Homo sapiens: one gene and its partners. The protein of the gene in region 7 purifies or fractionates together with the protein of the main gene of each other region. This does not show direct contact. Each region holds a gene or a part of one and is shown on either strand. Other genes may lie near its edges. The genes, in order: TFR2, USP47, SMC4, MTCH2, NCAPG, ARID2 and LRRFIP1.

Region 1 (3,500 bases), on a different chromosome or scaffold from region 7:
GCAGGAGAATCACTTGTACCCAGGAGGCAGAGGTTGCAGTGAGCTGAGATTGCACGACTACACACCAGCCTGGGCGACAGAGCGAGACTCCGTCTCAAAAAAAAAAAGAAAGAAAGAAAGAAAAAAGAAAAGAAAAGTGTGTAAAGAAAGACTATAACCAGGATCCTGATTTAGATTGCAGTTCAGGGAAGGCTTCGTTGAGGAACTGACGAGTCTAAACTGCCAAGATGAGTAATTTGCCAGGCAAAGAGACTGTGGAAAAACATTCAGGCTGAGATTCACCATTTGCGAAGGGTCTGAAATGTGAAGATGGTGGCCTCTTGGAGGAAGGGAAAGATGGTCCATGTGGCCGGTGAGGTGGATGTAGCTCAGGCCCTAAAGGGCCTTACTGGCTACTTTAACTGTTTTGAATTGAATTTTCCTGCCTCATCCCTGAGTGATCCTCCCCACTCCCCTCCCCATAAGCACCTTATCTCACGCTTTTGATGTGTAGCTTTAAATACACATATGGGGCGGGTCGTCATGGTTCATGCCTGTAGTCCCAGCACTTTGGGAGGATCGCTTGAGGCCAGGAGTTCAAGACCAGCTTGGGAAACACAGCAAGACTTCTCGTCTACAAAAAATTTTTAAAAATCAGCGGTTGGTGGCGTACACCTGTAGTCCCAGCTGCTCAGGAGGCTGAGGCGGGAGGATGGCTTGAGCCCAGGAACCGGTGATTCCCCTGAGTACCTTGGTGTAAAGTGTCTCCATGAGGCCCACGTGGAGGATGGGGGAGATGAGGAGGGTCTGCTGCCTGCCCAGTTAGCTCTTTCGAAGGAAAGTGTTTGGGTGCTGTGTGTGTGTGTGTGTGTGTGTGTGTGTGTGTGTGTGTGTGTTGACGTCGGGAGGAACGAGGTTGGGGGAGAGAGTTTGGCTTGAGCCGGGAAGAACCTACAGGATGATGGGCAGGACCCCCAGCTATGGGAAGTCAGGTTTTAAGCAGAGTGAGGTCCTGAGAGTCTCCGGCGCCGCCCTGGTGGTGATGGGAGAAAATGGGTCCGCGGAGGGCCCTGCACTGCGGCTCGCGCCTGTAATGCCAGCACTTTGGGAGGCCGAGGCGGGCAGATCACCTGAGATCAGGAGTTTGAGACCAACCTGGTCAACATGGTGAAACCCGTCTCTACTAAAAATACAAAAATTAGCCGGGCGTGATGGCACGTGCCTGTAATCCCTGATACGAGGGAGGCCGAGGCAGGAAAATGGCTTGAACCAGGAAGGCGGAAGTTGCAGAGAGCCGAGATTGGTCCACTGCACTCCAGCCTGGGCGACAGAGCGACACTCCGTCTCAAAAAAAAAAAAAAAAAAAAAAAAAAAAGCGTCCGCGGGGAGCGCTCTTTTCCTAAACTCAGGAACCCCTCGCCGCCCCTGCCCCTGGCGACCCCACGTCTCTGGCATCCTTCCCTCTTCCCTCCCTCTCCTCCGGGCGCCCAGAAAAGTCCCCACCTCTCCCCGCTTAGGCAAACCAGCCTTCGGGAACGGGTGGCAGGCTCGGCCGGGATGGCCGCTCTGACTCAGGACATTCGCGCGGCGCTCTCCCGCCAGAAGCTGGACCACGTGTGGACCGACACGCACTACGTGGGGCTGCAATTCCCGGATCCGTGAGTGCGCGCGCGGGCGGGGGGCGCGCGGGGAGGGGGACGCGGCTCGGGGCGCTCACCAGCCCCGCTCCCCAGGGCTCACCCCAACACCCTGCACTGGGTCGATGAGGCCGGGAAGGTCGGAGAGCAGCTGCCGCTGGAGGACCCTGACGTCTACTGCCCCTACAGCGCCATCGGCAACGTCACGGTGAGCACCCCCTGCCCGCTCCTAGGATGGGGCGCGGCACGAGCCCTTTCCTGGGTCTCGAAGGAGGGACGCGGGGAGCGCGCCTCACCGTCCTCGTGTCCCCAGGGAGAGCTGGTGTACGCCCACTACGGGCGGCCCGAAGACCTGCAGGACCTGCGGGCCAGGGGCGTGGATCCAGTGGGCCGCCTGCTGCTGGTGCGCGTGGGGGTGATCAGCTTCGCCCAGAAGGTAAGTGTCCCTGGACAGAGGGAGGGCTTGAGCCCGGGAACCGGAGGGTCGGACTGCCAGTGAGAATCGTTCAGGGTGCTGTGAGAGGGAGACAGGAAAGAACCATGTGGCTGGATGGTAAGAAAATATAAGCTGGGCACGATGGTTCTCACCTGCAATCCCAGCACTTTAGGAGGCCAAGACAGGAGGATCGCTTGAGGCCAGGAATTCAAGGCAACACGGTGAGAACCCCCTCTCTACTAAAAAAAAAAAAAAAAAAAAAGGTTCTTTTTTTTTTTTTTTTAGTTAGCTGGGCTGGTGGCACATGCATGTGGTCCCAGCTACTCCGGAGGCTCCGGTGGGAGGATCGCTTGAGCCCAGGAGTGCCAGGCTGCAGTGAGCTATGATCGCGCCACTGCACTCCAGCCTGGGCAAGAGAGACTCTGTCTCAAAAAGAAAAAAAAAAAAAAGAGAGAGAAACAGAGAAGGGAGGGAGGGAGGGAGGAAGGAAGGAAGGAAAATGTTGGCTGGTCTGGGAATTGAATCAGAAGGAAAAAAGAAAATGTTGGCTGGGAACAAATTGGGTGTTGGGGGAAATCAGATGGGGAAGGGAACAGAAACATGGGGTACCCTGGAGCCCGGTGGGGTTTGAGGGCTGCCTAGGAGCTGCTGAGGTTGGGAAGACACAGGCCAGGTAGTGCCCCCACATCCTCTCCGTGGGATGGACAGTTGCAAGCAAAGGCCTTGCCATTTCCTGGTTTCTCCTGCCCTTATGAATCGGGTTTTTTTCTGGGAGGAGTCCTCTAGTCACCTTCCTCCCCAGGTGACCAATGCTCAGGACTTCGGGGCTCAAGGAGTGCTCATATACCCAGAGCCAGCGGACTTCTCCCAGGACCCACCCAAGCCAAGCCTGTCCAGCCAGCAGGCAGTGTATGGACATGTGAGTCTGGGGAGGCTGGTCGTGCTGTTCCCAGGTCCCGAGGCCACACCTTCTTGCTCAGAATAGGGCTGGCATGTTTTTCGTTTTTCCTGGAAGCCCAGCTCGCAGCTTTGCGTGGGCACCCCTTTCCCTGCAGGTGCACCTGGGAACTGGAGACCCCTACACACCTGGCTTCCCTTCCTTCAATCAAACCCAGTTCCCTCCAGTTGCATCATCAGGCCTTCCCAGCATCCCAGCCCAGCCCATCAGTGCAGACATTGCCTCCCGCCTGCTGAGGTGAGGGGAGTGTTGGGGACCAGAAGAGGAGGAAGCAGAGAGAGGAAGGCTGCAGCGAGGCCACAGGGTGATTGTGGGTGAACTAGAAAAAGGTGACTCTTGTTTAAGCCTGCAGTGAGCCATGACTACACCACTGCACTCCAGCCTGGGAGACAGAGAGACCCTGACCTTTTTTTTTTTTTGAGATGGAGTCTTGCTCTGTCTTCCAGGCTGGAGTGCAGTGGTGCAATCTTGGCTCACTGCAACCTCCACC
Region 2 (3,500 bases), on a different chromosome or scaffold from region 7:
GGAGCAATGTGGTTTAGAGCTCAGTATTGACAGGTAAAGTAAAATTAATGTCATCAGCGATTTGAAGAAAGACTATGTGGTCAGTTGAAATGGACTGGTATGATTTTCTAAAACTAGGAGAATTAAAATTTCCTGTGCTATTCAGAATTTTAGTATGACAGATTAGTTTAATAGGACTAAACAAGAGTATTAAAATTTTGTTTGGATTTCCTATACAGAATTCTAAATTTGAATTACTGGAAACATTTCTTTATTTCCCCAGATTTTAACAACTCATTATTTGACTTTTGTATTTGAACATAGTTCATTTTTCTTTGGTGTCAGATTAGTGTCAATCTTTAAATTGAGAGTTTCAAATTATAGTCGTTTTAAATGTCTTATCACATTTGTAGGTTTCGTCTAAGGAAAAAAACATGGAAGAATCCTGGCACTGTCTTTTTGGATTATCATATTTATGAAGAAGATATTAATATTTCCAGCAACTGGGAGGTTTTCCTTGAAGTTCTTGATGGTATTTTCAATATTTTTGGGGGGAAGTATCAGTTAGAAATACTCTAGAACTAATAGAAGCCTATAGTTTTTAATCAAATAATGAGTTACGAGGAATCTAATATACATTATAGTGTTTTGTGTTATATTAAGCATAACGATATCCTTATTATGGATTGATGTGATTCCTACCTACGTCTTATCCTTGGGAGTTTTATTTTCTTCCCCTGTGTCCTAATGTAACTGCTTAAGTTGTTTTTGAAAGAATAATCAGTGTCTTTCAGCCTTCTGCTATCTTTCTCTGGTTCCCATTTGCCTTTTAAGTATTCTTTTTTTGAATGTTGAGAATATTAATTCCCCCTTATGAGGAAATTACAAAGTTAGGTTTTTAATACATTTTAAGAAAACTCTGCTAATATTTTCTTAGCCACGTTTGTTCTTTAGTTTCTTTTTTACTATTATGGCTTATTTTGTATTGAAGACATGGTACTGATAATTTATCAGAGACTCAAGAACAATGACTATTTGTGTCCTAAGCCAGGTGGCTTAAAGAATAGAAGTGTATTGTCTCACAATCTGAGATCAGGCTGTCAACAGGGTTGGTTCCTTCTGAGTGCTGTGGGGGAGAATCTGTTCCATACTCTCTCCTAGCTTCTGTGGTTTTTGGCCATCATTGGCAACCTTGGCTTGTAGATACATCACCCCAGTCTCTGCCTTCATCTTCATGTGGTGTTCTTTCTGTGGGCTTGTCTGTCTGTATTGTTTTCCCCTTTTTCATAAACCACTAGTCCTATTGTATTAGGGCCCACCCTGAAGACCTTATTTTACTTTGAGTATCACTGGAAAGACCCTATTTCCAAATAAGGTCACATTCTGAGGTACTAGGGATTAGGATTTCAAAATGTCTTTTTGTGGGGGGCACAATTCAACCCATAGCAGTGACCTTGAGGAGGTCCAAGTAGCAGACATACTTGTCACACCTCCCAGTTTTCGTTATCAACATTGGCACATTTAAAGTATTGGTGTTTGGAGGGAGGCTTATAGGAGGAAAGTTGGCTTTTAGAAGATCACATCAAGGTAAACAACTAGTTCTATATTCTTTTTTTGCTGTTGCTTAGGAAAATTTTAATTTTCCTTTTCTTCTGTAGAAAGTAAAATATGAATTCTGGATATTTTGTTACAAGATTATCCTAGTTTTTAGAGAGCTCAATAATACTAACACCTCATGTATTTCAGGCTGCTTCAGGTCTAATTCAACCATAAATTTAAATGGTTGAAATTCTGATTAATTGACAAGTTAAGTTGGGAGGTAAGGAACAACTAGGATACCATCTACTATGGTGTGTAGGCAAGTGCTCCAGATTGTGATTTCTTTGAGTATCTGGGGTCGTAGGGAATAATCACTGTGCCTGGGTAAGTCAGGAAGAGATCATAAATGACAAAGAAGTCACCCTTGTAAGGATTGAGTATGTATTAGCAGAGATGGATTCATCTGAAAATGGTACTAGATGGTGGGTGCCTGCATCAGTATTATTTCAGTATATTTTCACATCAAGATAGTTGAGTAAGAAATGTCATGTGATTAAATCCAAGAGGTATTTATTGACCTGTAATTTGCCAGACACTGCTAATCCCTTGTGCTACAAAAATGAGTAAGAACCACTTATTGGTGCACACAGTCTGTGGAAGAAACAGAACTGCAAACCTGTCATTCTAAAATAATAGGTACTAAGGGACTGAATCAGTAGAAGTTCTTCTTGTGTACACCAGAGAAAAGTGACAATTGAGTTGATGCTTGAAAAGTGACAATTGAGTTGATGCTTGAAAAGTGACATAATGGAAAAGTGACAATTTTGAAGAATCACTAAATTGGGGAGTAAATGGAAAGAGAAGGATTAATAATAGCTTTAGTGAAAAAAGAGGATAAAGTGAAGTTGATTTGTTTATGATTTTAGATAGGGATAGGAGCCAATAGAGAAACAAAGATTGGAAATCCAGAGAAGAGAGTAATTGGTAATGCAGTGTTCAACAGGAGTCAGGAGGGAGTGGAATTAGGAGTACTGGTTTGAAGAAGAGAGGAATTATCTTCTGAGACTGGAGAGAAGAGAGTAAATATTTCATTCTCAAAAACTCCTTGGGATAATTGGGTTTTTTCTTGTGCCCACTTTTTAAGAGTAACACTTGAAGTAAATCTTTTTGTTTAGTAAGGCACTAAGGGAAAAGTCAAATTATGAACCTTCAGAGGAAATAGAATGATGACCTAATCTTGCATATTCTTAGGGGTAGAGAAGATGAAGTCCATGTCACAGCTTGCAGTTTTGTCAAGACGGTGGAAGCCTTCAGAGATGAAGTTGGATCCCTTCCAGGAGGTTGTATTGGAAAGCAGTAGTGTGGACGAATTGCGAGAGAAGGTAAGTTCATTTTAAACAAAACATGTATCTTATGTTGTATATGTATATCATAATATTAATAAAATATATAATATATAAACAATACATTCTTCCTGTGTTGCGTAAGAGAAAACCTAGGAAGTAGTACCAAACACTGGTGCAGCAACCTTTCTTTTTGGTTTCTGTCACACCTTGTGGCACACTCTGGTTGTTCAGGCTCCTGATTCTTTGAAAAATTACTTTGGCTCCTGGCCATTCAGAAGTGGATCCTCACTTTCTGTTACTTGGACCAATTTTGTCCTAAGTAGTTAGAATTAGTTAGAAGTTACTAGAGTGAATTGCTTTATGTCTAAAAAAAACCAAATGAAGTCGAATTGTGTAGAGAATCCAGATGAAGGTCTGTTTTGCATTTTAAGATGGGATATCTAAGGATCTCTGGGGAAAGGGTGAATTAGTCAATCTGTGGTACTAGCACAATGAGCATTTTGAAAAAGATTTATTTCCATACTTCATACTAAACACAAAAATAAATTCTAAATGTATTAAGTTTATATATAAAAAAAGTAAATGTACTAGGTGAAAATATGTAAAATATTAAATACTAAAAATATTTTCATATTC
Region 3 (3,500 bases), on a different chromosome or scaffold from region 7:
GCATCCCATATACTTCAGAAGCACAAATGTAATATAAATTTGACAATTTATAAATTATTTACTTCGTTGGGACAATATTACATTAGCTTCCTTTATTACTGAATTACGTACAGAGATGCTGTACAGAGAAAAAAATTATCCTTAGAAGGGTTAAAATGCAGTGTATTTTGATGAATCTTTGGATAAATGTAAAACTTTGATTATCCCAGGATGACGGTAAAAGATTAAGCAAAAGATAAACATAAGTACAATTTCCTGCAAATTGGTATCATCATCAAATTTAGTATTATATAGGGACATAACTTTTTATCCATTATTAACCAAACCAAGTCCCAGAATATGTAAGTCAATAAAACAGTTCAATTTGATTTTAAAAACACACAAAATCCTTTAATGCCACATTCTATAAATTCCAATCTTGTTTAGAAATATATCTGCAATTAATTTCCTCAACATTAATTTTTAAATAAGTTTAGGTTGAAGTATTGCAAATATACTGTGCCTGGTAACAAAAGATATTAAAAAAGGTTATCCTAGAATGATACTGATTTACCTTGTATACTATGAATGTCTAAAAGTAATAATTTTTAGAAACAATTGAAGAATAAAGACTAAAATGGAAACAGAGGCTAACATTTTATAAGTTTGTTATTAGGAACATCCAGTCACCCTAACAAAATTCCCTACTTATTTCAGTCATTTCTGCATCACAAAATAGTTTTGCTTTTATTATGCTTCGGTGATTCTGGATAGAACACAGGAAAAGAAGATACCCTCGAATCAAACAGGAACTTGACAAAGCCATGGTTTTACCCTAATTTTTTTTTTTTCCGAAAAATTCTGAATTTTGAGGACAGGGAAAAAAAGATAGGGGATTTTTCTTACCAAGCCATGCTGGTAGAATATACTTTTACTTAAAGAAAACAGGGTTTCTAATAAAAATCAGTTTGGCACAGGTACTTAATTTTTACATCTCTTTAAAAGGACTTGCTCTGTAACAGCTCTGATACTTAACAATGTAATATCAAAGTTTCGTTCTTTCAGTAGTAGTGGTTCCACCAAGTAAGTCATTTTCAACAAAACAAAAACCAACTTGAGTAAAGGTTAAGTTAACCATCCAAAGTGTTACAAAGATTAAATTAACTAGGTGCTTAGGTAAATCAAACACCAAGTGTACAGATTTTTTCATTTTTTGGTTATATATCAGAAGAGATAATAAGAACAAAAACAAAGGAAAAGGATAGATTAAAATATAATACATTTCATTTAAAATGTTACCTTAAAGGGAAATACAAACAATTGATAAAATAGTTGCTGTATCCCTGTCACACTAAAGCAGCACAGTAATATTGGTGTTTAATATATATTTCACTACGCCAATATTTACGTGCTGCTAGAGTGGAACAAGTATGTCAGTTCATCCAAACATAAAACGAACATCTGATGATGAAAACATAGTTTTGAATGAATTTCCTTAAATTTCTAGAGCAGCAAATAATGATTCGCATCTTGACTGTAGCATGTAAACCATGATGTGCTGCTACAGTACTTTAAGGCCTCAAAAATGTAGGATTCATCCAACCTAGCTTTATAGAAAAAAAAGTAACAAGAATAAGAGAATCTTTGAAGTCTTTAATAAACTTACCTGTAAAATTAAAAATCTATTATGGTCCAAGTCAATTCCATGGCTTCGAAGAAGATTTCCAACATCCTTAAATGTCTTTTTCTTTCCACTTATGTGATAGACAGAAGTATTATCTCTGCAGGCCGTTCTGGATACATAGAAATTACTGTTAGGAATGACTTCATAATCATCCCCTTCCTGTTTTGAGGAAAAACAAAACCAGAAAACAATTGTTGGTATTAAGTCATAGGCCTACTTCAAAATTCACTCATTTCATACTGAAACTAATTCTATGGATTAAAAACTTCAATTGAACATGCACACAAACTGCCAGTAGTTCTCATTAATAACCCAACTTAGCAAAGAATTGATACTTTTCCATGCTGTTTTGGTCCCTTTCTCAAAGATCACAAAAATCAAGAAGCCAAACCAACCAGCCAACGAAAAAACCCACCTCCAAACAAGCCTAAAAACGTTTATGATTGAGAAGACGTAGACAAGATTCCCACCATATCCAAAACCCACACAAATTATTAACATGTTGACAGATTAAAAAGCTGCAGCTTTTTAAAATGATGATTCAAAGAAAAAGGAAGGAAGGTAGTAACCGGGTGATACACTTTAGTTTTTTTGTGTGGGAGGGTAAAGAGTGTGCCGTTAATTTAAAGTAAAAAGAATCACAAAGAAATAACAACTAAATTCCCTTGATTTTCTTTTAAACAGATTTTTAAAAAAATCAATTGCAAATCTACTTTAACACTTTCCCTTAACCTTAAAAGTTCTGTCATACTGAAGCAAAGGCTTCTAAAATTTAGATAAATCAAATGTAATTAATATGCAATGGAATAAAATCTGATTTCCTGGCAATCTATTTTCCAACCCAACTTGTACAATAGAAAGCACAAAAGAAACCAAATTAAAATAGATGATTCTGTGTAATTAAAGCACTTTGTATTAAAAAAAGGAAAACGAATTCAAAAGACAAATCACCTCCCAATTTCATTATGTAATTAGTTTTCTATATTTTTAGGTTCCATCGAGTCATTTTTGAACAATCAATTTCCTACATTATTAAACAGAAGAGAAAAAGTCTCAACAGGTAAATAATCTAGACATTTTACCTCTAGTTGTCTCCATTTCTAGAAAACAAACATTAGCTTGTCCTTCCCCCATTTCTAAAGGACTTAATTACAGCAGTAGTCAAACTGAAGCAAAGCTCTTTCATATCACAGATACTCAGGGGCCACTAACATTAGAGTTAAAATGCACTGAAATAATGAAGATGGTAAAACCGGCTAACTGCTACATTTTCAAGTTTAGCTAATTTATTCTAAAGCAATCAAAATATAACTTTAAAAATGAACTGAATATTTATAGTAAAATAATGCCTATTTAGTACTCAGGACCCTAAAACTGCTCAATGCTTTTATTCCAAAAAGGATTACTATGAACTATTTATACTTCATTTCTTTAGCTAAAAAATAAGTATTTTAACAGGCACCACCACTCCCCCAAAATAAAATACGGTCAGAGATAATGAAACCAATGCTTTCCGCTGTAATTACATACAAATTTCTTAAAGCCAAAAATAAAATATGTAATGCATTTAAGTCCATTTTCCTTACTTGAACTTGCCAATAACAGTAAAAATCCCTTACCTTATCAATTATCTTTTGAAAATGAACTTCTACTGTACAACTCTGAATGTCCTTGTGTTCATCAGAATTATGTATTAATACTGAGAGTTTTTTAGATCTTATTTTTTGTGCTCGATAGCCAAACACAAAAAGCATAGAATCAATAACATTGGATTTGCCACTGCCATTTGGCCCGATAATACAGGAAAAGCGCTGCATTAAAAAAACAAAAACAAAAC
Region 4 (3,500 bases), on a different chromosome or scaffold from region 7:
GTGTTAGCCAGGATGGTCTCGATCTCCTGACCTCATGATCCGCCCGCCTCGGCCTCCCAAACTGCTGGGATTACAGGCATGAGCCACCGTGCCTGGCCGGCTTTTGCATTTAAACAGTATCTTTATGGTCACTGAGTTTTTTCTTTTCTTTTTTTTTGAGACAGAGTCTTGCTCTGTTGCCCGGGCTGGAGTGCAGTGGTGCGATCTCAGCTTGCTGCAACCTCCACCTCCCAGGTTCAAGTGATTCTCCCGCCTCAGCCTCCTGAGTAGCTGGGATTACAGGCACACACCACCATGCCCAGTTAATTTTTTTTGTATTTTTAGTAGAGATGGGATTTCGCCATGTTGGCCAAGCTGGTTTTGAATGCCTGACCTCGTGATCTGCCCGCCTCAGCCTCCCAAAGTGCTGGGATTATAGGTGTGAGCCACCACACCCGGCCTAGTCACTGAGTTTTAAGACAGCCCTCACCCCTTCTCCAAGGGCATAAGATCCTATGGGACTGGATGGGCAAACTAAGGAAAATACTAATTGCATAGTAATACATGTATCCCTGCTTTTTTTTTTTTTTTGAGAGGGAGTCTCGCTGTCTCCCAGGCTGGAGTGCAGTGGCGCAGTCTTGGCTCACTGCAAGCTCCACCTCCCAGGTTCACGCCATGCTCTTGCCTCAGCCTCCCGAGTAGCTGGGACTACAGGCGCCTGCCACCATGCCCAGCTAATTTTTTTGTATTTTTCGTAGAGACGGGGTTTCACCGTGTTAGCCAGGGTGGTCTCAATCTCCTGACTTCGTGATCTGCCCGCCTCGGCCTCCCAAGGTGTTGGGATTACAGGTGTAAGCCACCACGCCCGGCCGTATCCCTGCTTTTAAGCAAACTAATTTCATGAAAATTTACAGAAAATAGAGCTAATTTATCTGGTTTCCAGACCTTTAGTAATGTTTGTTTTGGAATATATATATATATATATATATTTTTTTTTTTTTTTTTTTTTTTTCTTGAGATGGAGTCTCACTCCTGTGGCCCAGGCTAGAGTGCAATGGTGCAATCTTGGCTCATTACAACCTCTGCCTCCCGGGTTCAAGCCATTCTCCTGCCTCAGCCCCCCAAGTAGCTGGGATTACAGACATGCGCCACCATGCCTGGCTAATTTTTGTATTTTTAGTAGAGACGGGGTTTCTCCATGTTGGTCAGGCTGGTCTCCAACTCCCAACCTCAGGTGATCCGCCCGCCTCGGCCTCTCAAAGTGCTGGGATTACAGGCATGAGCCACTGCGCCCAGCCTTTGGAATATGTATTTTGGATGGCTGCATTTCCTGGATAATTGTGACTTCATTAATGACAATTAAGACAATGTGAAGACTTAAGTAATAAGAGAATAGTTCTGAAAGCCAGGCACAGAAACACCTATGGCAGCATATGGGGGTGGGAAATGGGTGATGAGGAACTTTTCAGAGTCAGAAAAATGTCAAAAGAGCCTTTCTGCATAGATACTATCCAACATACAAAGGGCCTGGTCGCTATTTTAATACTTTTTTCTAAAGACAAGGTCTTGCTCTATCACACAGGCTGGAGTATGGTGGCACAATCATAGCTCACTGCAGCCTCAACTTCCTGGGCTTAAGTCATCTTCTCACCGCAGCCTCTCGAGTACCTGGGACTACAGATATGTGCCACCACACACCTAGCTAATTTTTCTATTTTTTTTGTAGAGAGGAAGTCTCACTATGTTGCATAGGCTGGTCTCTAACTCCTGGGGTCAAGTGATCTTCCTGCCTTGGCCTCCCAAAGTGCTGGGATTACAGGCGTGAGCCACCACACCTGGCCTATTTTAACACTTTTATTCCTGAGGTTTTCAACACTATTAGAAGACTTTCAGTATTCTAAAGACGGAATGTGTGGGCAAAATGAGTTTTCTTGAAATGCATCTATTCTGAACAGCAAGCACTGATCCTCTCTCTTTTTAATGTTATACATGTAGTAAAGCCCAAATTAATTTGAAGGTTTAATTTCATTTGGGAACAGACACTGAACACACAGGCCTGATGATTCTGATTCCATAGTTGCAACACCACAGTTTGATCTGGGCAAACAGCACAGGATGTAATTCATCTCTTACCTCCTTGATAACGTGGTCAAAGGAAGATGAGACTTCTTTCTGTACATTTCCAGGTCCTAACTCCTGGAAATCAAAATCAAAGAAAATAGAGATCTTGATTTTTTTTTTTTTTTTTTTTTGAGACAGAGTCTCGCTCTGTCGCCCAGGCTGGAGTGCAGTGGCACAATCTCGGCTCACTGCAAGCTCCACCGCCTGGGTACAAGTGCTTCTCCTGCCTCAGCCTCCCAAGTAGCTAGGATTACAGGTGCTCGCCACCACGCCCTGCTAATTTTTGTATTTTTAGTAGAGACGGGGTTTCACCGTGTTAGCCAGGATGGTCTCGATTTCCTGACCTCGTGATCTCCACCTGCCTCGGCCTCCCAAAGTGCTGGGATTACAGGCATGAGCCACCATGGGCGGCCGATCTTGACGGTTTTTATTTCTTTTGAGATAGGGTCTCGCTCTGTCACTCACGCGGAGTGCAGTGATGTGATCATGGATCACTGCAGTCTTGACGTCCTGGACTCAAGTGATCCTCTCACCTCAACCTCCCATGTAGCTGAGATACAGAGGTATGTGCCACCAGGCCCCGCTAATCTTTGATTTTCTGTAGAGAAGGGGTCTATGTTGCCCAGGCTGGTCTCAAACTCTTAGATGCAAGTGATCCTCCCACCTTGGCCTCCGAAACTGCTAGGATTACAGGCATGAGCCACCATGCCCAGCCATCCTGATGGTTTCAAACAGAACTGTCCAAACTGGTGGCCACCCCATAGGACAACACTCACTGAGATGAATAGGAGACTGACTACTTGGCTTTTCTCCAAAAGAGGCCCCAAAAGCAGTAACAACTTGCAAGGGAAAGGCCCTCATGCTTAGAAATCAGCTCCAACATACCTCACCCTTGTCACTCTCCTGGTAATGCTATAGAAAAAAAGAAAAAGGATGATTAGGGTTATTACAGTGTCATGTGAAAGAAGACATAAAATGAAAACTCTACTGACAGAAAGTAAATTAGCTGAAGTTTTTTTTAAAGTTTTTGTTTTTTTTTTTAAGCTGCAAATCTTCAGTTAACTTCTACTCATTAATCAACTGGAAATATGGATCTCCAAGATAAACTTGTTGCTAAGTTTAACATATTGGTCAGTTGGAAGAAAAGCAAATGGTCATGAAAACTCTTCTTTGAAAAAAGAAAAGGGGACAGGTGTGGTTGCTCATGCCTGTAATCCCAGCACTTTAGGAGGCCGAGGTGGGCAGATCACCTGAGGTCAGGAGTTCAAGTCTAGCCTGGCCAACATGGTGAAACCCCATCTCTACTAAAAATACAAAAATTAGCGGAGCATTGGGGCGCACGCTTTTAATCCCAGCTCTTAGGGAGGCTGGGGCAGGAGAATCACTTGAACCCAGGAGGC
Region 5 (3,500 bases), on a different chromosome or scaffold from region 7:
AAACACAAAAATTAGTGTGGTGGTGCACACCTGTGGTCCCAGCTACTTGGGAGGCCGAGGCACGAGAATGGCTTGAACACGGGAGGTGGAGGTTGCAGTGAGCTGAGATCATGCCACTGCACTCCAGCCTGGGCAACAGAGGGAGACGTTGTCTCAAAAAAAAAAAAAAAAAAGTCTAATCTTCATCTTGCCTAATTATCACCTCAAAAAAAAAAAAACCTGACAACCTCGTTTATCATCTATGAGCTAGCCCAGCTATTTTCTAAGTTTCAGATTCATATATATAACTGCTAAAAGACATTTCCTCTTGATGTTCCACAGTTTCCTCAAACTCAACATGTCCAAAAGGGAACTCATCATTACACAAATCTCTCCTCTTCCTTGTTCTCTATCTTCATACTGTCATCACCATCTACCCAGTTGTCTAAACCAAAAGACTTAAGATACATTCCTGACTCCCTTTTCTCCGTTACTAATTTCTAAATACCTCTCAAGTTCATCACTACTTTCCAAATCCACTGTCATTATCTTGTTCAGACTACCATCATCTGTAAGTCTCCCAACCCTACTGTAAGTCTCCCAACTATTATGCCTGTCTAAGCTTTTACTACTCTCCAATCCATTTCCTAAACAACAGTGATCTGAGACATAAGACTTACCTAACCACTTAAAATACTAGTGGTTCACCACAATCCTTAGAATACAAAATTTTTAATATTGCTTACGCAAAGCCTTACATGACCTAGCCCTTAATTTTTCCCCAGATTTTTCTCCTGCTTCTCCCCATCAATTCTCTAGTCACATGGACCTGAAGTTTTAAAACATAATAGGCATTCTTTAACTTCTGGACCATCACAGATGTTGCTCCATCTGTCTACAACATTCCTTCCATAATTCATTGAGGAGAGACAGCACAGAGTGAGTTAAAAGCACAAGTCTAGAGCCACTTCTTGGGTTTAAATCCTGCCTCCACCATTTACTATCTGTGTGATTTTGGGCAAGTTACTTGCCCTTTGTAAAATGAAGATAATAATAGTACCAACCTCATAGGCCTATAGGAAGAAAAGAATGAATTCACATTTGTGAAGTAATTAATGCTGTGACTACCACAGAAAAAGTATCCTCTGACTGTTAGATTATATTGTTATTTTTATTCTAATCTCAGGATAAAACATGTCTTCCTCTGGGGAAGCCAACAATACTCTACCAGCACTAGAAACCTCTCCATAAAACCTCTATACTTCCCTGACCATAGCATTTATTATGCTCTGTTGTAGTTGCATTTTAACAGATTTGTAGCCCTCGAACAGGACAAATAGACACATAAATGGTCAAAGCAAGTCAAGTTAAACAGACGATATTAACCATGATAGACTACTTTTGCTAATTTTATAATTTTGACCTAAAGTTTGTCATTTTTCAGATGATATTTTCAGTTTTTGCTTTAAATTTGCTTTCCAAATTTAATAGCCTATAATGGCCCACAGACTTCGTCAAATAAAAGAAGCCACCAGCTATCAAAATAAAATTCAGGCATACACTCTGGGAAGGTGGGTGTTGGAGTTGGGATGTCTATGGCTAAAGAGATCAGAAACATAACTCATGAAACTCTCCTATATAAAAGAGTCTCCTATTTAGCATTCTTTTTATGAGAATAATCAGCACATCCCAAAAGTACAACAATAAATGATGTTCATTACAAAAGGCAAGATCCCAAAAGAAATTAAAGTTAATATCAAATATTAATTGATACCTATCTTATGTTTACATATTTATCATTTGTTGTAAGACAGAATGGTATCGATACCATTAACAAAAAATTTCTTTCAGAAGGAAAGACATACTCCATTTAAGAGAGTACTTTAACAAACTAATTTTTTAAAAAACGAACTACTGAAAAGCAAGCTTTAAATGTTACTAGACATATTTCAGTATTTCATTAAAAATAACAAAGCTGCGTAGCTTTTTCTAAAAACACAAAAGTAATTTAGCTTTAAAAAAATGCACGTTACCATAGAAATTATTTTGCTAGCAATAAAAAAGAAAGGTCATTGATCCTCCACAAATAAGAGGAAAATGGATGTATTTTCCTTTTTTAAACCATTCAAGACAAAAAACAGAAAACTCAGATGTGAACCACTGGAAAGCTAGCTTCCCTGGTAAGAAAGACTTCGGATTCTAGAGATTAGCATGACAAGGAAGCAAATAAAGTCCTACCTCCAATAATTAAAGTTAATTAAGGCCTTTCAAAGTCCAAAAATAGAAACAGGGAAAAACTTTTTTCATTTTAATTCATGTCACTATTACAAAGTGCTCAAAGTAAATATATTTTGGCAATTCTAGAAGTTAGAGAAAATAAGATTTAGTTGAGATGATTAATAACACCTGAGATTTAGTATGAAAAAAGTTACCTGTACCTTCTCTATGTGGACTTCTTTAATTTCAAGTTGCTCTGTCTCTTTCAAAAGGTTTATTCTGGCATCTTCTAATGCTTTTATTTCTTCTTTTAATTCTGATGCCCGATTAAAATCCTGTAAGGTAATGCAATTTTCCAAAGCTTCTTTGGCTTCGATAAGCTTAACTTTTATTTCAGCCATCTAAGGGAAGATATAAATTGTTTCAACACTGAACAAAAACTGTTAATATGAATATCTGTAGCAACTCAGGAGTATTATTTAATATCTCAACTGCCCAGAATTTAATGAGTCAGGCATATGCAAACTTGTAGTTTTCCTGACACAGAGATCTGCATATCTCTGAGACTGACATATGTGGTAACATTTTAAATATTCTTATAGTTTAACAATTAAACAATAATTTGATTATGTGAGAAACATTTCAGAACTGCACAGCAAGAGGAAAGAATAGACTTGCCCAGCTACATTACACTCAAGCACTTCTTTCATTTAAAAGAGACTTACCTTGAGTTCTTTCTTTCTTACATCAGCTGGATCGTTATTAACACCAACAGTAACAATGGGCGCCCGAATCTCTGAGATAATTTCTGTAACCTGTAAGTTCAGAGTACATGCTTTAATATATGTTTGATATATCAGCAAATAGTATCAAAATTCTATATAAAACTCCAAGTAGTATCCACCATATATTGAATAATGGAGCAAAAACATACTGGTAGAAATAGCACACATTCTGTTTGCTAGACAATTTTAGAAAAAAACAAAACAAAACAATATATCTGACTACAAAATGAAATTATTTGAATGGAAGGGAAATAGGCACACAGACAGTGAAAGTAAATTATCCCTCATATAATGTTTGAAAAACAGAAATATGAATTATGGTGCTTAAGATGAGACACTTAAATTCTCTGCCTAAAATCCTCAACCCTTCTCTTGTTCAGCTCTGTAGGAGTTAAACACAGAAAAATGGAATATCCTTTTATTCTTCCTTTGGGTAGACAATGCATAAATAATAATAGCATAAGGAAGGACTTTCCTTTCAGAACCACTTGTATATTGGAATTGGCTGATCAGGAAAAG
Region 6 (3,500 bases), on a different chromosome or scaffold from region 7:
ATACTGTAAATCAGCAAGTTTCTGTCTAGCAAGGAGCACCTTTTCATGAATGAGAGGGTTTTGCAGAACTTATTGTGCAAAAGCACTTTAATTCCATTACACAGCAAGTCCATATTATTATATAGTTCTATAAAGCTATAAGAAGAAAAACCTAAGTGGGAAGCCATGATCAGTTTCATTAGGTCAAACGCATTTAGGAAATTCTCTGCTGAGACTGAAGCTTAAAAGGCTACAGTCATATTTACATATTATAGCAGAAAAGCTAGAACTACAGCATGCAATTCAATGAGGTGGAAGAATGGTGAATATGAAAACCATTTTTCTAAACCTGCAGTTTGTTCTCTTTTCTATTAATTTAATTACCACTGCAGTTTCTGATTTTGAGAAGACATTATCTTTCAAATAAACGTTGTTGCACAAATTTACTTTTTAAAAGAGATTTTTGGATAAGTACGGTGAATAGAAAATTCCCCATATGATGTCAACTACCAGGTGCTTGTAAGTTTGAGGGCTCTGAAGGCCATCCTAGGGATACCCACATGATTTCAGCGGTGTCTGTTGGGCAGTGCCAGTCTTGGAAGGTGGGCCAAGCATAAATTCCACAACCTTATAACTAATATTAGATGAAGTTTCTCAAACATTCCTTTGAGACATGGCAGGACAGCGCCAGGGATCCTCCTTCAGGAAGAAACTAGATTTTACATTGGTACTAATTCAATCAAAATATTTAAAACATTTTTAATATGGAAACTGAGGCTTTTTCACTCTAAGAATCTGCCTCCAAATTCAAGCTGAAGATTTGGATACACTGTGATTCTGAATAAACAGTCAAGAAACACAACATCAAACAATAAAAGCTTTTAGCCAAATGTACAGTATCCAGTAAAAAAAGGCATATTGAGCTTTAACTGCATCAATCATTTGCTGTTCTCTACATTTGCTCTGCATTATAACAAGATGAAAAATAAATACTTGGTTAATCTGCTTATTTCATGCAAATTTGTCATGTAAAGGACCTCTCTTATTTGTTCTCTATTTAATATGTTATCAATCAACATATAATCAAATAGGTAGGTGACCGTTATACCTTGCCTTCAGCTGAATTTAGAATTCTCTCTATATTTTTAAGATGTCTTAAGCATACTCAGAAATGAAGGACTCAAGAAAATGTTCAGTCTTTTATTTAAAAACTATAAACAGTCACCAAAGTAAATAAAGCCATTCTATAACATAAACTGTTAGGTCTATATTTTTTACTGCACATCCTAAGGACACAGCAGAAATGGTGGTTGGGAGGCCTTCCACATTTTTGGATGCTAATAGAACAGGCAATAGGCAGTTATAAATGGATACATTTCACGCTGGGGGAAAAAAGACAATTTAAGGAAGTGAGCAGTTTCTGAGCAGGAATGTGGTACAGTATTAAGAATGGAAGAATAATACAATAAAATTCCACACTATATTAAGATAGAAAAAGTAGTGAAGAAAATATCATACCTGCACATAATGCATATATAACACAGGAGAAAACCTGTATAAAATTCCATGTATTTAAACCAATTTACAAATACAAAAAATTCTGTCCAAGCTCTGAGCTTGTACACGACAAACGTTTACAGTGGATACATGTTAAGGAAAACCAAAAAATACCTTCAAATAGTTTTTCTTCTAAAAAATGACATGAGATATATTATTCCATACTCTTTCAGCCAGCAAAATGAGTTCTACAAGGTGTATAATACAAAAAAAAAAAGAAAAAAAAAAAGAAAAAAGAAAAAAAAATCACAGTTCCACAAAACTGTTTTGACTTTACAGCATCAGTACCTTTGCAGAAGTATTTACACAAATTTAAAGAACATTCATCCACTGCATAGAATATATCACAATTACTTACAATTGACAGGAAAGTCTAGAAAACTTTAGAACCTACCAATAATGCTTCTAGGACACCACAGAATGTATTTCCAGTGGCTGCAGTGGCATGAAAGGTATTCATTCTATTCACAAATATTTACAAGATCTATTCAGACTGGTAAATTTTTATGATAATAAATAAGTGAAAATATATTGGCTCAAGTAAGAAAACCAAGCTACTGATTTCTAAACAAAACACACGATCCATAGCTAGATATTGGTGGCCCCCTCTGAGATCGGGGGTATAGGTGTGCTGAAACTTTTTTAAATTATTCAAACCAGCTTAAACGGTTTTGTAAATATAAAAATGTGCTCCTTTTTGGATATAGATAAAAATATTTAATGCTTCTATTTCATCTGCTCATGTAGGTTTTACAATATTCCATGTATATTCCAATGTGGATGGTACTGAATTCTGATCATACCAGTTTCCATCAGGATTTATCAGATCTGAAACATCCTGCAGATAAGCTGGTTGACAATCCCACAGCAGTTCTTTTTTTTTTTTCCTTTTTCTTTTTAGATTTTTTTAAACAGAGAACAAAGGGATTCACTCAGAGATCAGAATACGAAGCTTCCTCTCAGCATCATGGGAGGAGATAAAATAATTCATTCTATGGTCTTTGTTCCATTAAGACTTGGTGCTTTCTTCAGTAACAGTATGTGAAATGTGGCTGACTTTGAGTCCCCCACTGTGTAAGTGGAATTATTTTTCACTGCAGCATTTCTGAGTCTTTTTCTTGTTCCTTACTCTGAACTGTAAAATTAAGTTCATAAAGGCATTTGGCAAGGGTGGAGGAAGCTTCCATGTTACTAATGGCTAGCACTGATAAGTTATTTTCATGTCTCTTTAACAATCTGCAAAAAAACATATAGAAGATTGTCAGTCTCCAAGGTCACAGCGATGACTCTTTATCATGAATTTTGCAAGTTTAAAAACTAAAATAGAAACAATACATAGCTCCACACCCCGTAAATGTTAATATAGTATTGCAGGAAGAGAGGGAAGCATCTGGGAAACAACTAGAAGGATAAACTGAGGCTGACTATTACTGTTTGCCTTTTCTGCATAGTACCTTTTTTTTTTTTTTTTTTTTTTTTTGAGAAGGAGTCTCACTCTATTGCCAGGCTGGAGTGTAATGGCGCAATCTTAGCTCACTGCAACCTCCACCTCCCGGGTTCAAGTGATTCTCCTGCCTCAGCCTCCCAAGTAGCTGGGACAACAGGCGTGTGCCACCACGCCCAGCTAATTTTTGTATTTTTAGTAGAGACGGGGTTTCACCATGTTGGCCAGGACGGTCTCGATCTCTTGACCTTGTGATCCACCCGCCTTGGCCTCCCAAAGTGCTGGGATTACAGGCGTGAGCCACCGCGCCCAGCCTCTCCATAGTACCTTTCTAAATATGGAAGGCTGCACAGCAAAATTCTTTTTCAATCTTCATTCATGTTTCTAGAAAATTTAGAAAATGGTGTCAGAAAACAGCTGGAGAGGAACAAAATGGTTGCTTTTAAGGGATGACATGAAATTAAAATTATATTGTAGGTATAATTAAAGCTTCTTAGTCTTCATTAAGTGAAACCAAGCC
Region 7 (3,500 bases):
TGGACACACTCATTAGAACAAACGAGATACCAGTATGGAAAGGGATGTGGTCACAGAGGCAGTAGAGTCTCTGGCCCCACTCAGTAGCTGGGGAATCCCCCCAGCACGGCGTCCTAGGGCTGGGTGTCAGGCTGTTCAACAGATTTCTGAAGAATCACTCGAGGCGTGTGACCAGCCCTTGTGAAAGAGCCAGTGTGTGATGGCTGAGATAATTACATAGGGCCACAAGCCAGTGACTGCCAACCAGCCCTACTCTGGCTTATGAACCAGGAAAGGAGCAGTAGTGAGTTCAGATTTTTGACTCATAGGAAAATGGCAGGCAGATCTCACTGGGTAGGTCCTGGAAAGACAAAGGTCATTCCCTTTGAAGGACAGTCCAGAGAAAGAGGCCTGTAAAATACGCATGGCGATGCCCTCACGTGCCTCACACCCTTGCAGGTCCCCAAACATGAGGAGGGGAAGGCGATTCCAAAACAGAGAGGCAGAACCTTCAGGGCGCATACATGCAGAGCTAAAGGCAGCGGCAAGAGCTGCCAGTTCAGGTGCAGCAGAGGCTACCAGGGGGCTGGAGGGACCAGTGCTGGTCTAGCTCTGTACCTCCACACCAGGACAGCTGCTTCACGTGGGACCAGCGGGTCTCCGGTTGGTTCAGTGGCTCCCCAGCAGCATTTTTTCTTTTTTGAAACAGTGTCTCGCTCTGTCACCCAGGCTGGAGTGCAGTGGCACGATCTCGGCTCACTGCAGCCTCCACCTGCCAGGTTCAAGTGATTCTCCTGACTCAGCCTCCCAAGTAGCTGGGATTACAGGTGCGCACCACCACACCTGGCTAATTTTTATATTTTTAGTAGAGACGGGGTCTCACCATGTTGGCCAGGCTGGTCTCAAACTCCTGACCTCCGGTGATCCACCCACCTCGGCCTCCCAAAGTGTGGAATTACAGGCGTGAGCCACCACGCCTGGCCAAGTGGCTCCTTTTCGCATGAATTGAAAGCCAGAGTCTTATTTTTCCCCCTTTCAGGAAAGGTGGCAGATATGAAGATAGTGAATTAGTCATGATCGATGTCACCTCCTCTGTCTGGTGCCCTTTGATATTAAATTCAAATGATCTTGCAGGTACTTTCTAGGGGGCTGAAAAGGAAGTAACAGATACGCCACCCACTTCCAGATCCATGATCCGCTGCTGCCTAAGGAAGACAGTCACTGATTGCCCACCTTACTGTCAAGGAACAGGGCAACCACATCTCCTGGCTGGTGCAATGAAGTCACTGCACACTCTAAAAGCAGTGTGCACACGCTCCAAGAAAGCCAATGCCATAGTCAGTCTTTACTTCAATTAGTAGCATTTTACAGGGTGCAAATAATTGGGATGTTTCAAAAGTGTGGCATGTGAGGACGGCCTTATTAGTAGACATCAGATATTTTGAGAAGCAAATCAACTGAAGCATTTTTGTATACAACTACTACAAAAAGTGAAGAAAACCAAGAACCTTCTTCAAGTGTCTGGCACACGCCTATGGGAAATGAGAAACTGGTTTTAAGCCTGGGGGAAGGATGGTAAGTCTAAGGCATGCATCAGGGAGTATGTTAGTAACCTTTTCTACTGGGCAGTTACATTTTCAATCTTGGTTCAAACAATGCATTTGGGAAAATGGTGAGTGTACACCCATGCCGGCACTCCTGCCATTGTGAGTTCTTCTACACCCTGGAGCCTATTTACAGTAAGCATGCACTTTGAATTTCTTCTTTAGGATGTTGTTTTTTTTTTTAAGTTAAGTTGGGTTAATATCGTGAGACCACACGTCTGTGAATTGGTACCTTCATCTCTTTCAATCCCTGCATGTATTTGCCTTCTACATCCTGAATCTGGTCCTTTAACTCATTGAGTTCCTGGGGGAAATGGCAAAAAAGGCAGATGATGTCAAGGGAAAACAGGTGATTCCCTAAATCTTTTATACTTCAGGGTAGTTTCTATTTGGGTAGTCTGAGCACCCAATTTTCTTTTTTATTTTATTAAGCGTTAAGGGAAAATAAACTTCAATATTTAAAGATTAAAGTTCAGGTGTATCCCATATGATATTTTTACATGATTTTATACAATTTTAGTGTATCTCATATGATTTTACACAGTTTAAAAAACAGACAAAATAGAGCCTCGGAAAACGGTACAGGTTATTTCAACTCCTATTTAGTAATTCATTCAAGCACTAGGAGTTCCTACTCTGTGCAATGTACAGTAAGATGCTAGAGGCAAAAATCAGTAGCACTTTTTCCCTGCATTTATGGAGCTCCAAGTCTCTACTTTGCCAAATTCCTGGTGCCGGGGACAGCATCTGGCACCAGCCAGCCTCTCAGTAAGTACCTGAACAAATGAACGGCACGCGCAACCTAAGGGCAGAGAAACATCAGGACTGCCGCCAACTCTGCTGCTCTGCTGTAGAAACGGAAACAACAGGCCAGGCGCAGCGGCTCACGCCTGGAATCCCAGCACTTTGGGAGGCCGAGTGGGTGGATCACCTGAGGTCAGGAGTTCAAGACCAGCCTGGCCAACATGGCGAAACCCCGTCTCCACTAAAAATACAAAAGTTAGCCGGGCATGGTGGCGGGCGCCTGTAATCCCAGCTACTCAGGAGGCTGAGGCTGGAGAATCACTTGAACCTGGGAGGTGGAGGTTGCAGTGAGCCGAGATCGTGCCATTGAACTCCAGCATGGGTGACAAAAGCAAAACTCTTGTCTCCAAAAAAAAAAAAAAAAAAAAAAAAAGAAAGAAAGAAAAGAAAAGAAAAAGGAAAAAAAAAGGGAAGCAACAAGGAGCTGCAGGTGGCCCAGGGGTGGCACATGGGAAATGGCTCTTCTGGTTTTGTAAACTTATAAAACATAGGTGTTGGAAGCATCTTCAAGGTAACCCTGGCCAAACTCTGGTGGATGCTTAAATCCCTCTCCGTCCTCCCTGGCAAACGGCCATCCAGCTGCTCAGACATCCCCAGTGGAAGTTGCTTCCCTTTTAAACCTAGTTTAAAGCACTAGAAAATTCAGAATCTGAGTCAGTTCTGGCTCCTTTCAGCTGCTTCTGTCTTGGTTCTGCTCCCTGGAGGACACAGGTCTAGTCACCTCACCTGCCCTTCCAGTCTTCAGGTTTTCAGATGCACTGTCCCTAGTTACTTTAACAAATAGCACCGTGTTTCTCTTTCACACACAGAATACTACCAAATGCCTGGCACTGTCCTGGGTGCTGAGGATAGAGCAGAGAATAATACCTACACTACAGTGGGATAAAAAAAATCATTAAAATACAAAGATGAGGGCTACTAAAGGCACATTACAAAGAGAAAGGAAAGGGCAAGTTCTAGGCCGAAGGGGAACATACTTAGTGGGGAGGGGTTGTGTGAAAGTAGGTAAAGCCGTCTGGTGTCCAAACTTGTGGACTGAATGTCTATGCAGACCAAGCATACAGAGACGACCAAGTGCATCAACACAACGTGCCAAGTGCTCTCACTAAGGTA

Evidence for each region.
Region 1: the proteins of LRRFIP1 (region 7) and TFR2 purify together in Homo sapiens (affinity purification with mass spectrometry; 2 studies listed by BioGRID and IntAct, with this or other methods). This does not show direct contact.
Region 2: the proteins of LRRFIP1 (region 7) and USP47 fractionate together in Homo sapiens (co-fractionation; one large-scale study listed by BioGRID). This does not show direct contact.
Region 3: the proteins of LRRFIP1 (region 7) and SMC4 fractionate together in Homo sapiens (co-fractionation; one large-scale study listed by BioGRID). This does not show direct contact.
Region 4: the proteins of LRRFIP1 (region 7) and MTCH2 purify together in Homo sapiens (co-immunoprecipitation; one large-scale study listed by IntAct). This does not show direct contact.
Region 5: the proteins of LRRFIP1 (region 7) and NCAPG fractionate together in Homo sapiens (co-fractionation; one large-scale study listed by BioGRID). This does not show direct contact.
Region 6: the proteins of LRRFIP1 (region 7) and ARID2 fractionate together in Homo sapiens (co-fractionation; one large-scale study listed by BioGRID). This does not show direct contact.

The regions. Positions count from the first base shown.
Region 1 is NC_000007.14:100,631,553-100,635,052, reverse strand, and holds part of TFR2 (transferrin receptor protein 2), read left to right. Parts: intron 1-1,402; exon of another isoform or gene 1,403-1,496; coding exon 1,497-1,637; intron 1,638-1,712; coding exon 1,713-1,824; intron 1,825-1,929; coding exon 1,930-2,052; exon of another isoform or gene 2,053-2,130; intron 2,131-2,854; coding exon 2,855-2,971; intron 2,972-3,107; coding exon 3,108-3,247; intron 3,248-3,500. UniProt on the Homo sapiens protein: Mediates cellular uptake of transferrin-bound iron in a non-iron dependent manner. May be involved in iron metabolism, hepatocyte function and erythrocyte differentiation.
Region 2 is NC_000011.10:11,949,972-11,953,471, forward strand, and holds part of USP47 (ubiquitin carboxyl-terminal hydrolase 47), read left to right. Parts: coding exon 1-33; intron 34-392; coding exon 393-511; intron 512-2,769; coding exon 2,770-2,900; intron 2,901-3,500. UniProt on the Homo sapiens protein: Ubiquitin-specific protease that specifically deubiquitinates monoubiquitinated DNA polymerase beta (POLB), stabilizing POLB thereby playing a role in base-excision repair (BER). Acts as a regulator of cell growth and genome integrity.
Region 3 is NC_000003.12:160,402,650-160,406,149, reverse strand, and holds part of SMC4 (structural maintenance of chromosomes protein 4), read right to left. Parts: intron 3,475-3,500; coding exon 3,283-3,474; intron 1,823-3,282; coding exon 1,646-1,822; intron 1,563-1,645; exon of another isoform or gene 1,465-1,562; intron 1,406-1,464; exon of another isoform or gene 1,325-1,405; intron 1-1,324. UniProt on the Homo sapiens protein: Central component of the condensin complex, a complex required for conversion of interphase chromatin into mitotic-like condense chromosomes.
Region 4 is NC_000011.10:47,632,560-47,636,059, forward strand, and holds part of MTCH2 (mitochondrial carrier homolog 2), read right to left. Parts: intron 3,013-3,500; coding exon 2,986-3,012; intron 2,176-2,985; coding exon 2,113-2,175; intron 1-2,112. UniProt on the Homo sapiens protein: Protein insertase that mediates insertion of transmembrane proteins into the mitochondrial outer membrane. Catalyzes insertion of proteins with alpha-helical transmembrane regions, such as signal-anchored, tail-anchored and multi-pass membrane proteins.
Region 5 is NC_000004.12:17,824,479-17,827,978, reverse strand, and holds part of NCAPG (condensin complex subunit 3), read right to left. Parts: intron 3,012-3,500; coding exon 2,922-3,011; intron 2,598-2,921; coding exon 2,418-2,597; coding exon of another isoform or gene 2,412-2,417; intron 1-2,411. UniProt on the Homo sapiens protein: Regulatory subunit of the condensin complex, a complex required for conversion of interphase chromatin into mitotic-like condense chromosomes.
Region 6 is NC_000012.12:45,904,206-45,907,705, reverse strand, and holds part of ARID2 (AT-rich interactive domain-containing protein 2), read right to left. Parts: intron 2,773-3,500; coding exon 2,628-2,772; 3' UTR 1-2,627. UniProt on the Homo sapiens protein: Involved in transcriptional activation and repression of select genes by chromatin remodeling (alteration of DNA-nucleosome topology). Required for the stability of the SWI/SNF chromatin remodeling complex SWI/SNF-B (PBAF).
Region 7 is NC_000002.12:237,749,587-237,753,086, reverse strand, and holds part of LRRFIP1 (leucine-rich repeat flightless-interacting protein 1), read right to left. Parts: intron 1,888-3,500; coding exon 1,816-1,887; intron 1-1,815.